2 linked regions of the Homo sapiens genome follow. The protein of the gene in region 1 interacts with the protein of each later gene in a pairwise test. Each region holds a gene or a part of one and is shown on either strand. Other genes may lie near its edges.

Evidence for each region. The genes of interacting proteins can lie anywhere in the genome.
Region 2: the proteins of PPP2R3B (region 1) and DUSP12 interact in binary tests that used the Homo sapiens proteins (3 or more experiments, as listed by UniProt).

What each region holds. Positions count from the first base shown.
Region 1 is NC_000023.11:383,908-392,902, forward strand, and holds the start of PPP2R3B (serine/threonine-protein phosphatase 2A regulatory subunit B'' subunit beta), read right to left. Parts: upstream 3,001-8,995; 5' UTR 2,785-3,000; coding exon 2,461-2,784; intron 1,199-2,460; exon of another isoform or gene 1,135-1,198; intron 1-1,134. UniProt on the Homo sapiens protein: The B regulatory subunit might modulate substrate selectivity and catalytic activity, and might also direct the localization of the catalytic enzyme to a particular subcellular compartment.
Region 2 is NC_000001.11:161,752,137-161,758,327, reverse strand, and holds the end of DUSP12 (dual specificity protein phosphatase 12), read right to left. Parts: intron 5,961-6,191; coding exon 5,864-5,960; intron 5,254-5,863; coding exon 5,067-5,253; intron 1,543-5,066; coding exon 1,381-1,542; 3' UTR 1,090-1,380; downstream 1-1,089. UniProt on the Homo sapiens protein: Dual specificity phosphatase; can dephosphorylate both phosphotyrosine and phosphoserine or phosphothreonine residues. Can dephosphorylate glucokinase (in vitro).

The sequences.
Region 1 (8,995 bases):
GGATGGGAGTTTGGACACACCTTATTATACCCCTCCTGCTTTGGCAGTTTAAACACAACCAACCAGCAAAAAGGTTAAAATCAACATCGTAAGACTGACAGAACAGACTCTGTGGCAAACAAGACCAAGGGCCACCTGAGGTGAGGGTTAAGTCACACACCGCCTACACTTAAAGAATAAACTACAGTTCCAACTGCCAAAGCATTTCTTTTTCTCCAGCAGCTAAATGTCCTTTTAGGTTATTCACTAGAGACCTCTGCAGAAACTCGTTTTTGAGATTCAAGAAGTAAATAAAGGATGTTTTTCTTTTTCTCTATTGCTTATCTTGGCCTCAAGCTCGCGCACGCAAGAAGACTCTCTCTCTCTCTCTCTCTCTATATATATATATATACTTTTTTTTTTTTTTTGAGACAGGGCCTTCCTCTGTTGCTCAGGCTGGTGAGCAGTGGTGCAATCTCAGCTCACAGTAATCTCCGACTCCCAGCTTCAAGCATTTCTCCTGCCTCAGCCTCCTGAGTAGCTGAGACTTCAGGTGCGCCACCACGCCTGGCTAATTTGTGTATTTTTAGCAGAGATGGGGTTTCGCCATGTTGCCCAGGCTGGTCTCGAACTCCTGAACTCAAGTGATCTGCCTGCCTCCAACTCCCAAATGCTGGAATCACAGGCGTGAGTCACCATGCCTGACCAATATAAACAATATTAAAACACCTGCAGCTTCCTGTCAGATCCTGATGAACAGACCCCTCTGTTCCACCAGCCGTAACTACAGCTTTGACTGGGAAAAGACTGATTCCAGGCCAGGTGTGGTGGCTCACGCCTGTCATCCCAGCACTTTGAGAGGCTGAGGCGGGTGGATCACCTGAGGTCAGGAGTTTGAGACCAGTCTAGCCAACAAGGTGAAAGCCTGCCTCTACTAAAAATACAAAAATTAGCCGGGGGTGGTGGTGTGCGCCTGTAATCACAGCTACTCGGGAGGCTGAGGGAGGAGAATCGCTTGAACCCGGGAGGCGGAGGTTGCAGTGAGCTGAGATTGCACCATTGCATCTCAGCCTGGGTGAGAGTGAGAATCTGTCTCAAAAAAAAAAAAAAAAAAAAAAAACTGATTGCAATCACTTTATCCTGGTAACTACTCACCACGGACTGGTTCTGGCCGGTTGACAGAGGCTGCAGAGTTGCTTCACCTTTTGACCTAGGGGGCCTAACCATAATGCATTTAAATGTTAAGTCTCCGCTCCAAGGTGAACTCGGGAGTAGGTAACATGCATGTTTGTTCAATACCCATGCGTCAGGACACCCTTGGTGAATATCCATAGCTCTTCCTATAACTTCTTGAATATATACACTTGGCCAACCCACTCAGCATAAATTCCCGTCTCATCTTTTCTTCCCTCCAAGTGCTTGTTTTTAGTTTTCTTTTTTTTTTTTTTTTTTTTTTTTTTGAGATGGAGTCTTGCTCTGGTGCCCAGGCTGGAGTGCAGCCTCTGCCTCCTGGGTTCCAGTGATTCTCCTGCCTCAGCCTCCCGGGTAGCTGAGATTACAGGTACATTAGCCAGAGGCTGCGCTTCTCACCTGCGGTGTATAATCACCTTCTATGAAATAAATGGCGTTTCTTCTAAGAAATACAGTGGGATTTTGGGAGGCCGAAGCGGGAGGATTGCTTGGACCCAGGAATTCCAGAGCACTCTAGGTAACATAGCAAGACCTCGTCTCTGCAAAAATAAATAAATAAATAAATAAACAAAAATTAGCCTGGCGTGATGGTGCACGCCTGTAATCCCAGCTACTGGGGAGGCTGAGGCAGGAAGTCCAACTGTGTTTGCGCCACTGCACTCCAGCCTAGGAGACAGAGCAAGACCCTGTCTCCAAAGAATTGTAAAATAAATAAAAAACGGACCAGGCGCAGTGACTCACGTCTGAAATCCCAGCACTTTGGGAGGCCAAGGCGGGAGGATCACTTGAGGTCAGGAGTTCGAGACCAGCCTGGCCCACATGGGGGAAACCCAGTCTCTACTAAAAATACAACATCAGCCAGGCGTGGTGGCACGTGCCTGTAAGTCCCAGCTCCTCGGGAGCCTGAGGCAGGAGAATCGCTTGAACCTGGGAGGCAGAGGTTGCAGTGAGCCAAGATCGCGCCATCGTACTCCAGCCTGGGCAACAGAGCAAAACTCTGTCTCAAAATTAAAACAAATTAAAATAATAAAATAAAATAAAATAGGAAGCCTTTCTACCTTTATAAATTGTGTGATTTTTAGGTTAACAACTGTCAATGACGGAATGTTCAGTACGTGGGACTTTCTTGTCTGTATGTGTGTGGTGGGGGGGGTCGGGGCGGGGAACAGACTCAATATGAAACCGTTTTGGGGTCTGACGCTCGCCCACCAGCCTCCATCGCGCAGCCACACGCCCACTATGCGACCAGAGCCACCTGCGCAGTTGTTAGCAGAAGGAAGAGTAACTTACTACTCTCGTCCCTGCGGATCTACGGGTGCCTCGAACGTGGGGCGCGTTCCTGGGGCTGGAGGCGGCGCCCAGGGGCAGCGCAGGGCCCGGCCCGGGGGTTCCCGGGGGTTCGAGCCCGCTGGGCCGGGGGGCGGCGAGCGGGGCTGTGGGCCAGGCCCCGGGCTGCTCCCCGTCCCCCGGGGTCGGCTGGTCCCGCCCGGGCGCCTTGATCCGGCGCAGGCAGTCCTGCAGCATCCGCTGCGTGCTGGCCTCGCTGAGCCAGTACAGGAACAGCTCGTCCACCTTCATCTTCAGGACCGGCTGCAGCACTTTGCCGGGCGGCATGGCGGGGGCTGGGCCCGCGGCGCCCCCGGACGCCCGCGCCCCGCCCCGCCCCGGGGGCTTCGGTCCGCCCCGGACCGACCTCGGTGATGCGAGCACGGCCCGCTGAGGGGGCGCGGCGCAGGGAACAGGGCCCGCGCCTCGGGAACTGCGCGGACTCGCGGGGCGCGGGGACCGAGGAGGGGGCGCGGTCCGGCCCGCGCTGCTCAGGGCAGCTTCAAAACGGGCGCGCCGGCCGCGCTCCCAAACAAGGGCGCCCGCGTTCACGTCACTGCGTCGCGTCATCGCGACGATGTCATCACGAGGCGACGCCGCCGCTAGCCACGCGCGCCCCGCGGCCCTCGGAGCTTTTGCAGGAGGCTTTGGTGGGGCCGAGCGGCTGCGGTGAGGACGAGGGAGGGGCTGTGGCGGCCGTACCGCCCGAGCTCTTTCTGCGTTTAGGATTTTTAGAGGCGCGGCCCATGGCGGCGTGGCAGTCCTAGAGCTGCGGAAATGCGAGCATGCGCAATGCGTGCCTGCCAGAGCGAGGAGAGGGTGGAACCTCCGCATGGAGCATGCGCCGTGCATAGCGGTGGAGGAGCGGAGTTCGGGAGGCCGGTCGGGTGAGCGTGCGCAATGGCTGCCCGCGGGGCGCAAGCCAGAGGCTGGGAGGTGTGTGAGCGGGTGGGGCTGGAGGACGGGAGTGCGCCTGCGCAGTGGGAGGCACCGGGAACGAGCGAGCATGCGGGGTGCGCGCCCGCCGAGCTCGGGAGCGAGCGTGCGTCCTACGGGAGCGCGCGAGGAAAAGATCAAACTTTTCAATAACAGCGGGCTACCTGGGACCCAAAGGGCCCCGTTTACTTTAGCTTTGCTTATCAAACAGTAGAGACAGGTTGGAGGAGTTGGACCCCTTTAAACGTTGGTGTTCAGGGATGAGCGTGAAGTGCGTTGAAAATTGCAAAAATCATCCACGTCCAGGGAGGTGACATTAGTTAAATAACTTTACCCAATGGTCGTTTTTGTTTCTGCTTTTAACAGTATCCATAAAAACACTGCATTATCATCTGTCTGGCACACATGCACCTGTTTCCTTTACATCTTGCCCCGCTTTTTATTCATTTTTTATCAAAATAGGGTTTCACCTGGTGTTGCACCCTGTTAGAGAGTAATTTCAAGGTCTTTTATGAGCCAGGTTCTCCTACTTCTGAGCTGCATAAATCGAGCCAGACTCAATAAGTAACCCTTGGCCGGGCGCGGTGGCTCAAGTCTGTAATCCCGGCACTTTGGGAGGCTGAAGCGGGCAGATCACGAAGTCAGGAGTTCGAGACCAGCCTGGCCAGCATAGTGAAACCGCCCCCACCATCTCTACTAAAAATAGAAAAATTAGCCGGGCATAGTAGCGTGTGCCTGTAGTCCCAGCTACTCGGGAGGCTGTGGCGGGAGAATTGCTTGAACCCAGGAGGTGGAGGTTGCAGTGAGCTGAGATCACACCATTGCACTCCAGCCTGGGCGACAGAGCCAGACTTTGTCTCAAAAAAAAAAAAAATAACTCTTTTTTTAGTTTTATTTTTTTTTTGAGTTGGAGTCTCGCTCTGTCGCCCAGGCTGGAGTGCGATGGCAAGATCTCAGCTCACTGTAACCTCCGCCTCCCGGGTTCAAGGGATCCTCCTGCCTCAGCCTCCCGAGTAGCTGGGATTACAGGCGCCCGCCACCACGCCTGGCTAATTTTTGTATTTTTGGTAGAGACAGGGTTTCACCGTATTAGCCAGGATGGTCTCGAACTCCTGACCTCAAGTGATCCACCCGCCTCGGCCTCCCAAAGTGCTGGGATTACAGGCGTGAGCTACCACGCCCGGCCTAAATAACTCTTTTTGTTCGTATGAGACAGGGTTTTGCTCCGTCACCCAGGCTGCGATCTTAGCTGAGTGCAGCCTTGATCTCCTGGCTCAAGCGATCCTCCCACCTCAGCCTTCCAAGCAGCTGGGACAACAGGCATGCGCCACCATGCCTGGCTCATTTTTAATTTTATTGTTTATAGAGACGAGGTGTTGCTGGTCTCACACTCCTGGCCTCAAGCAATCTTCCTGCCTTTGCCTCTGTCTCTGCCTCCCAAAGCGTTGGGATTACAGGCGTGAGCCACCGCACCCGATTTAAATCACTCATAAACGATAGTTTTGTGTTGTGTACATAATGATTTGAATTTCAGTTTGTGTTTCGTGATTGGATATAAAAATCCGAGTGTACTTGGTCAGAAGAGCGCCATCACGCAGGAATTCTGTGAAGTTATTTTTCCTAATTGGGAAGCAACCGTTTGTGTGTGTGTGCGATGCTGTGATTTCTGGAGGGAAGTGAATATATTAATACAGTTCTCTGTTTGAGTATGTATCGGACACAGACGTCTTTTCAAGGAACAAACGTGCTTTTCATTCTGGGTGTTTCGATGAGCTGCGAGTCACTGTTGGAAGCATCACTGCAGTTTTGAGGGGAAAGGGTTTCCTTTGAATGCCTGCACAAGAGGCCTTTCTCTGCCAGGTTACTGGGGCACAGTGTAGTGAGGCCCAGGGCCAACAGGACAGAAATCAACTCAGGGCAGAAACAGAATGCGCCTTCAGTCTGCGCTGGGGCCCGGGGGCCCACTCCGTGCAGGCTTTGCTCTGGGAGAACAAAGAGGTGCTGTCGGGCCCCCAAGGCTGGCAGGGCCTGAGGTGTTGCAGAGTTTGCTGGGATGTGGCCAGCTGCAATTATCCAAGCTGCTCCACAGCCGGATGGACGCCCTGCCCATTCGGGTCTGTCCGTCTTGCAGGGGTGGTGGGTGGCCACCAGAATTGTCCTGGGGAGAGAAAGGTGAGGGCAGGCCGGGAGATTGCAGTGGCTCATGCCTGTCATCCCAGCACTTTGGGAGGCCGAGACGGTGGATCACCTGAGGTCAGGGGTTCAAGACCAGCCTGGCCAACATGGTGAAACCCCCGTCTCTACAAAAATACAAAAATTAGCCAGGCACGGTGGCTCACACCTGTCATCCCAGCACTTTGGGAGGCCGAGGTGGTGGATCACCTGAGGTCAGGAGTTCGAGACCAGCCTGGCCAACATGGTGAAACCCCGTCTCTACAAAAATACAAAAATTAGCCAGGCATGGTGGCTCACACCTGTCATCCCAGCACTTTGGGAGGCCGAGGCAGGAGGATTGTTTAAGCCCAGGAGGTCAAGACCAGCCTTGGCAACATGGCGAGCCCCATCTCTAGAGAATATTTAAAAATTAGCTGAGCATCCTGGCGTGTGCCTGTGGTCCCAGCTACTCGGGAGGCTGAGGTAGGAGGATCGTTTGAGCCTGGGAGGTTGAGGCTTCAGTGAGCCGAGATCTCACCACCGCTCTCCAGCCGAGGCAGGAATGAAAGACTCTGTCCCTAAAAGCATTAAATTTTAAAAAGCAGCCAGATATCGTGGCTCACACCTGTTATCCCAGCACTTTGGGAAGCTGAGGTGGGAGGATCACCTGAGGTCAGGAGTTCGAGACCAGCCTGACCAACATGCTGAAACCCCGTCTCTACAAAAATACAAAAATTAGCCAGACGTGGTGGCTCACACCTGTCATCCCAGCACTTTGGGAAGCTGAGGCAGGCAGATCACCTGAGGTCAGGAGTTCGAGACCAGCCTGGCCAACATGGTGAAACCCCGTCTTTACAAAAATAGAAAAATTAGCTGGGCATGATGGCGGGTGCCTGTAATCCCAGCTACTTGGGAGACTGAGGCAGAAGAATCACTTGAACCCAGGAGACAGACGTTGCAGTGAGCCGAGATCACAGCATTGCACTCCAGCCTGGACAGCAGAGCGAGACTCCCTCTCGAAAAAATAAAAATAAAAATAAAATAAAAAGCGAGAATGGGGAGGGAAGAGTAGCGAGGAAGATTCCGGAAGACTCTGCTCCTCTGTGGGATGTAGGTCCAGGAACAAAGAGCTGGGTCAGCGCTTCCCAGGGAGGTGAGGAAGGAGGGAGCCACAACGGTTGTAGAGGGAGAGAAGCTCCTTCCTTCATCCACCTGAGCCCGGGTCTCCTGTGTGGCCACAGCCTCTGCAGCCTCTGCCCCACCTGCAGCTGCTCAGAAATGCAAACTCACCCACTGTATGACATGCTCTGGATCTCAGTCGGCCTTCGCCCCGCAGACCTGGGTGGTTGATCGAACACTAAAGCTCCAGACCTGGAGATGCCTCAGAGGAAGCACCTGGCAAGTAGGATCTCCCTGGTCCTGCGCCGACCCAAAGCTCCCAGCTAGGTGCGTGCAGTGAGAGGTCAAAGAGGGATCAAGTTTATATCTGCCGCTTGCATTCCGCACGATGACTTAAAACAAACAAACAAAACAAACAAACAAAAAAAAACAAAAAACCCAGCCGAGCACAGTGTCATCCCAGCACTTTGGGAGGCCGACAGGGGTGGATCACGAGGTCAAGAGATCGAAACCAGCCTGGCCAACGTGGTGAAACCCCGTCTCTACTAAAAATACAAATATTAGCTGGGCGTGGTGGCGGGCACCTGTAACCCTAGCAACTCGGGAGGCTGAGGCAGGAGAATCACTTGAACCCGGGAGGCGGAGCTTGCAGTGAACAGAGATCATGCCCCTGTACTCCAGCCTGGCGACAGAGCGAGACTCTGTCTCAAAATGAATAAATAAATAGGAAAGTAGTGTGGGTCTGCATTCTGCAGGTTTTGGAAACACATTTCCGAGTGCATATTTCAGGTGAGGAGAGGTGGGGACTCCAGGCAGCGTGCACAGTTTAGACTCTAACCGTGGGCCGGGAGTGGTGGCTCACTCCTATAATCCCAGCACTTTGGGAGGCCGAGGTGGGCGGATCACAAGGTCAGGAGTTCGAGACCAGCCTGGCCAATATGGTGAAGCCCCATCTGTACTAAAAATCCAAAAATTAGCCAGATGTGGTGGCGTGCACCTGTCATCCCAGCTACTGGGGAGGCTGAGGCAGGAGAATCGCTTGAACCCGGTGGAGGCGGAGGTTGCAGTGAGCCGAGATCGCGCTGCTGTACTCCAGCCTGGGTGACAGAGCGAGACTCCCTCCCAAAAAAAGAAACCACCGTAACTGTGGCAGTAAGAGGCCAGGAACTCTCACAGATACCTCGTCCAAAACCGGCAAAGGAGAGGATGGAACATTTGCTGTAGAGGTTTTCCTGCCTCTTCATAACTCCTTGAGGCTGTGTCCTCATCCATCTTCCAGAAACCAAAAACCCTTCACACATCGCCCCTTTTGTCCCGAGCGGCGCCCGCTGCCACCTGCTTGGCAAAATAAAACGTAAGTGGAAAAATGCTCCCTTTTCCATTTTCCTCTCTAATTGAATTCTCTCCTGACCTCTCGGTTCCCCACGGCTGTGTTTCAGGTTTTGATGATAAGGAAAAGAACTCTGTATTTGGATAATACGATTTTCAGCAACCTTCAACTCAATTTCCTCTCCCCGGAGACAGTGTATCTTATAGGATAGAATGAAATCCCTTATTCATAGGGAAAAAGTTCCAATTTAATCTGAATATTCAGCGTGCCGCCGTGGCCGGGGTGATGGATGGCGTATGGAAATATCACAGTTCAAGCAATCAGATGTCAGAATGCACTCTGCTACTGGAAGAAATAATGACGCCTATCCAATTTTCTATAAGGCGCAGAAATGCACGTTGCATCGTGAGGACCCCGGCTTTCTCCTATTACCTTACTAATCACATCTCCATTTAAACACAGAACAGAAAAGGAAGCGTGGTCACAAATTAAGAATTAATGGAAGTGAGACTCCGCAATGGATTCGGGGCCGAGGGCCAAAGGCGGCCGCCACGTGCCGCTATTTACATGAAGTCACAGAGATGACGGGGATGAGCGGGGTCCCCTTGTCAGAAGCTGCTGGGCCAGATGAACCTGACAAGTATCTCCTAAGAAGGATTTAGAAAAGGGGAAGATGAAATCTTTGGAGGTAATGGAGAATTAGAAGCATGTCATTACCTATAAATCCTGCGGCCCTGCACACGCTGTTGACAGCCCGGAAGATGAGACTGGCTGAGAGGAAAAAGATTCTGAGCCTGGAACAAGCGGACCCAGATTCTAGGTGGCCAGGCTGTGTGGTTGCTTTTATCATTCCGGGAGACTTTCGGGAGGAAATGTTTGCAAAGAGCACGCAGATGGGGAAATGTTTGCAAAGAGCACGCAGATGGCATTTTCTTTTCTCTCTATTTTTTTTTTTTTGAG
Region 2 (6,191 bases), on another chromosome or scaffold:
GGTTGCAGTGAACCGAGATCATGCCATTGCACTCCAGCCTGGGCAACAACAAAACTCCATCTCAAAAAAAAAAAAAAAAAATAGAAAGAAAAATTATTACATGGAAACTGCCAAAGCCTTCAGGTCCAATGTTAAGATTTTTCTCAAGAATTTTCCATAACACTCCTATACCTTTAAAAAACTGAGCTAGGCATTTATTAAGAGGATCATTATTCACAACATATTTTTGCATTTAAAAATTACTCCCACTACGGTGTTTATGTATATAAGCCTCAATGTGTACTATTGTTGGAACCCTGCAAATGGTGGGGAGCATGACTAGTGAATTTACAACTTAATTTACAACAAAAATAAAGAATATTTTTCTTTATTAATTCTTGTTCTTTTTTGGAGTAGCCTCCCAAGCAGCTGGGACTACAGGCGTGTGCCACCATGCCTGGCTGATTTTTTTATTTTTAGTAGAGACAGGGTTTCACCATGTTGGCCAGGCTGGTCTTGAACTCCTGACCTTAAATGATCTGCCTGCCTTGGCCTCCCAAAGTGCTGGGATCATAGGCATAAGCCACTGCACCTGGCCTTTATTAGTTAATTCTGATTCTTGTAAATGTTCAAATATCTAATTAGGTCCAATTGTAATTATTAATAATGAGTAAAATAATTCTAGTTTCTATACATCAGGTTAAAAAACTAATCTGGACGTATTACCTTTTCCAATACTCACATATTGGGCTACAAAATGACTTGATATATAGTAACTCTACATTTGTTTTCTTCATCATTAGAAACACATCTAACATTTATGTATTTCTTTATGTAGATCACTTCAAAAGGGATCTCAAACACTTTTCTAAAAATATAGATAATTGGGATTACTGAACAGTAATAGGAAAATTGCCTTTTAATCAGCGTTTTACTAATGGCCTTTCCATTTCCAAGAAAAAAATCCAGACATGTATGGGTTTACTAATGTCCCTTAAAAGAAAGAAAGTGAAATAATTCCAAAATATGTCCAAACAAATCTGCTTTATGTGTCTGGAAATAAAAGAATACCCATTTAAATATAATAGTTTCAAATTTTTGTACATAATTTTGTCTATACAGACCTTAAGATCATATAACATTCCAACAATCAAAACTTTTAAAAATATATGAAACACAGACAGTATCTGGTTATAAAAGATTTTAATATCAAATAAAATGTACATGATCAAAAGGCTTTGATTGCCATGTAAAGCATAGTTTCCAGGTTACATCAAGTGATTTTATCTTCTCCCATTTCAAATGAAATGTTGAAAGCACAAACAATCTGCCATGAATGATAAGAAGCAAAGGCAGCACATATCATCTGCAAGTTTCTTCCCAAGCTATAAAATATCATGTTCATATTTTTCCTGTTTGTGATCCCAAAACAGGCAATATTTTCATTTCATCCACTCTATTCTTATGTATTTGAAAAGCAGGTGTTATCCACCTACCACAAGAGCACTGTTCACCATACCAGTTGAAGGAACCCAACTTGGCACTGCATTTTGGGCAAAGAAGCTGAAATAAAGCAAATGTGTTACTTTATTCATTCACTTTTATACAAAACAAATCATTATCTTTGGCAATCAATATAGGATATAAAAACAAGACACGATCCCCACGTTGAGTTTATAATCTAATCAGTGAGATAAAATGCATTGGAAATTTACTGTAATAGATAGTAGACTACAATTATCTCATAGGAAGAATGTTGTATTCAGGGAGCTTGAAGGGAGAAAAGTGAAGCTTGAGATTTGATTAAGGAAGGTTTCATGGATGTGGCATATATATATATATATATATATATATATATATATATAGCTTTTAAATCAGTTTGTAATTTAGGACTTCAAATGAAAATGATCACGGCTAAAGTATAGAAAAGCATGTTAGGATTTTCATGCTGTATTACTAACTGTGTGTATTGACAGCATATAAGTCAGATTCTTAGCTATTTAAAGACAAACTGATATTCCAGGAAAATAGGTAAATCAAAAAAGCCTAATAAGGCAACTGCATTTTCTTCTAATGTAGTTAGTTATAGCATTAATTTTTATGTTTAGCTCTTTGATTTATGCATGGTATAAGGTAAGAGTTTTTATTTTTAATCTTGAGCTATAGAAAACTAGACATAAAACTCAGAAGCAGGCTGAGTGTGGTGGCTCATACCTGTAATTCCCAGCACTTTGGGAGGCCAAGGCGGGCAGATCACCTGAGGTCAGGAGTTTGAGACCAGCCTGGTCAACATGGTGAAACCCCGTCTCTACTAAAAACACAAAAATTAGTTGGGCATGGTGGCGGATGCCTGTAATCACAGCTACCTGGGAGGCTGAAGCAGGAGAATATTTGAACCCAGAAGGCGGAGGTTGCAGTGAGCCAAGATCACACCACTGCACTCCAGCCTGGGCAACAGAGCAAGACTCCGTCTCAAAAAAAAGAAATTCAGAAGCCATAAATAAAAAAACTAACAAATTTTATTATGTAAATATCCTTCATTTTAATATGACAAAACATAAAAAATCTGATAAGCAATAGACTGAAGAAAATAGTTGCAATATATTAGATGAACTATTAACATCTAGAATATATAGAGGTCCTACAAATGAGTAAGAAAGAGACAAAACCCATAGGCAAATGGGCCTAGGAATATGAAAGCAATTTATAGAAAAGAAAACAGTAAATGGCTGGTAAATATATAAAGATGGTGGTTGATGACTATTTTCATAAAATTCCAATTAAACATTTTAGGATTAACATTTTTTACCCCACAGACTGACAAAATGTTACCAGTTTTATAGTATCTATTATGTCAAGGATATGGAGTAACGGGTACATGCATTCAGTTACTGAAAACCAAATTTGTATGGGCATTTTGAATATCAGCCTGGAATATCACTAATATTTAAAATACATTCTTCGAGCCAGGAATTCCACTTCTAGGTACATATTCTACAGAAAAAAATCAAATATGTATACAAATAAGTATGCACAGGATTTAGAATCTTACATAAAAATGTATTTAACTTGGCTGGAGTGTGTGTGTGTGTTTCCCAGGTTAAGTAAAATTAGAAAGCCAGAATCACAAGCCACAAAAAAGAAAAACTGATAAATTAGATACCATCAAAATTAAAATCTCTAACTGCTACAAATAATACCATCAAGAATGGGAATTGCAGCTGGGCATGGTGGCTCACGCCTGTAATCCCAGCACTTTGGGAGGCTGAGGCAGGTGGATTACCTGAGGTCAGGAGTTCGAGACCAGCCTGACCAACATGGAAAAACCCCGTCTCTACTAAAAATACAAAATTAGCCAGGCGTGGTGGCGCATCCCTGTAATCCCAGCTACTCAGGAGGCTGAAGCAGGAGAATCACTTGAACCCGGGAGGCAGAGGTTGTGGTGAGCCAAGATTGTGCCATTGTACTCCAGCCTGGGCAACAAGAGTGAAACTCCGTCTCAAAAAAAAAGAATGGGAAGAGTGGGAATGTGAATTGTGATGTGATACGGTTTGGTTCTGTGTCCCCATCCAAATCTCATCTCAAATTGTAATCCCCAAGTGTGGAAGAAGAGAGGTGATTGGATCATGGAGGCAGATACCCCCATGCTGTTCTCGTGATAGTGAATGAGCACTCATAAGATCTGATGGTTTTATAAGTGTTTGACAGTTCCTCCTTCACATATGCTTCTCTCTCCTGCCGCCTTGTGAAGAAGTGGCCTGCTTTCCCTTCTGCCATGATAATAAGTTTCCTGAGGCCTCCCCAACCATGCAGAACCATGAGTCAATTAAACCTCCTTCCTTTATAAATTACCCAGTCTCACGTACTATCTTTATGGCAGTGTGAAAATAGACTAATACACGATGGTTGCAAAAACCACTGTGAATACACTTTAAAAGCCACTGAACTATACACCTTAAATAGGTAAATTGCATGTTATGTGAATTATACTATAATAAGGCTGTTTTTTTTAAAAAAAGCAGCATTATCCGAAAATGTGAGTTTGATTATATGGTACCACTTTCTAGGCAAGACACTACTCATAAACAGTTTCCTCATGCACAACACGTGAATATAACTGCTCTACCTATTTTATAAAGCTATGGCATTCTTCAAATGGTATAATACAGTGAAAGGGTTTCATAAACTAGCCACTATACAAACTTTTATACAAACCATACAAACTTTCAAAATCATTATTAAGATGATTATTATAGAATACCTTCACATTAATATCAAGTAAACCTAAAGGAGAAATGTGGCTGTCATGGCACACTCCAACCAAGTTAAACACTTTTTTATGTAAAATGTCACATGAACTGCATTCTTTTTTTATTTCCCTACCCACTGGTTACAGGAGCAATAGGATGAGCTGCATTATTTAACTGGAAATGAAAAAGAATCTCATAGCAAAACAAACTAAATTTCACTCTCCTAAAAGATAAGAAAAAAGAGAAAGACACATACAGGAAGCCAACAGAGAAAAAGAAAGACAGAATTTTTAACCTAATTTTAAAATCCCTGATTTACCCTATCTTGTTACAAAGTTCAAATTTTGTTTAATACATTTTTTCTTTTCTTTTTTTCTTATTAAAAATTTTTTACTTTCTTTTATAGAGATGAGGTCTCACTATATTGCCCAAGCTGGTCTCGAAACCCTGGGCTCAAGTGATCCTCCCGCCTCAGCCTCCCAAAGTGCTCAGATTACAGGCATGAGCTAATGAGGCAAGAGTGCCCAGCCAATATATTCTAATTAGTTTAAAAATAAATGTTAGTCTTATATTTGAAAAAAATATAAATAGCCTTAAAGGAAATTTATTAACTTAGACCAGGGCTCTCAACCAGAAGTAGTTCACTATGTTGGATCAGCTGGTTTTTGAAAAATATTTTATTTTTGATAGTCTTATCTACACTAGAAAGATATAATCTTCAGAAATAAAGAAATTAAGAAATGGAGCAAAACACTAGTTAAAATAGAGCTTAAAATGCAAGAAGGAATAAAATATAGATCATAAAATAAAATTGTAGAAAATAAAATGTGTTCTCACCTGTCCATCCATCACTCCCAACAAAGCAGATTCCATCCACTGTACAGGTTCAATGAAATAAGATGTACATTGAGCTTGCCTCCCTGTGGTAAGCATGGAAGATGGTGTCATTCTCTTGTGGGCAAAGGCTATAGGTCCACTTCCTTCACGGTGATCCAGAATACTAGAACTTCGAAATAATGATCGCCTGCAACCCCCAAACAAACAAAAGCATTAATGACTTCCAAAAGGATGAAAACATGGATGAAATGTGCGGTATTTCTTTTTTTTTTGAGACAGAGTCTCACTCTGTCGCCCATGCTAGAGTGCAGTGGCGTGATCATGGCTCACTGCAACCTCCGCCTCCTGGGTTCAACCAATTCTCCTGCCTCAGCCTCCTGAGTAGCTGGGATTACAGGCACCAGCCACCATGCCCAACTAATTTTTGTATTTTTAATAGAGACGGGGTTTCACCATGTTGGCCAGGCTGGTCTCAAATTCCCAATCTCAGGTGATCTGCCTGCCTCGGCCTCCCAAAGTGCTGGGGTTACAGGCGTGAGCCACTGCGCCCAGCAAAATGTGCAATATTGCTTAGAGAACAAAATAATGTAACATTGATTACACTACTTAAATTTTCAATAACCCTTACAATCTGATTATTTCTCTTTTTAAGAATTTATATTCTTTCTGAAAACAGATCTGAACTAAAAATTTCAATTAAACAAAATCTTCCTACAGAAATTTAAGAAAATAAAACATTAAGTACTTTTCAGCTACTGAGACAAGATAAAATATCCAAAGGATATAAAATAGTTTACCTGCACTTTCTACACTTGTAGAGAACCTCATCTTTCAATCCTTGTGAAACGGTAGTTGGGTCAACAGCAAAGAGTTCTTGAGGTAAATTCTGCAATTCTATATGACATAATTAAAATGTATTTATTTGTCAAAATCAACTCTGCATTTTCAGATAAATTCAGTTAATGTCAAATTGAGGCAACAAGTGCTAACCTCAAAAATTAAAAAAAAAAAAAAATCAAATTCCAGTGTTGAGAAATCAGGCTAAGGTAGGAGAGGACAGTGATTTAAGTGCTTAGGTTCTGGGCACGGGCTGCCTGAATTCAAATCCTGACCCTGCCATTTATA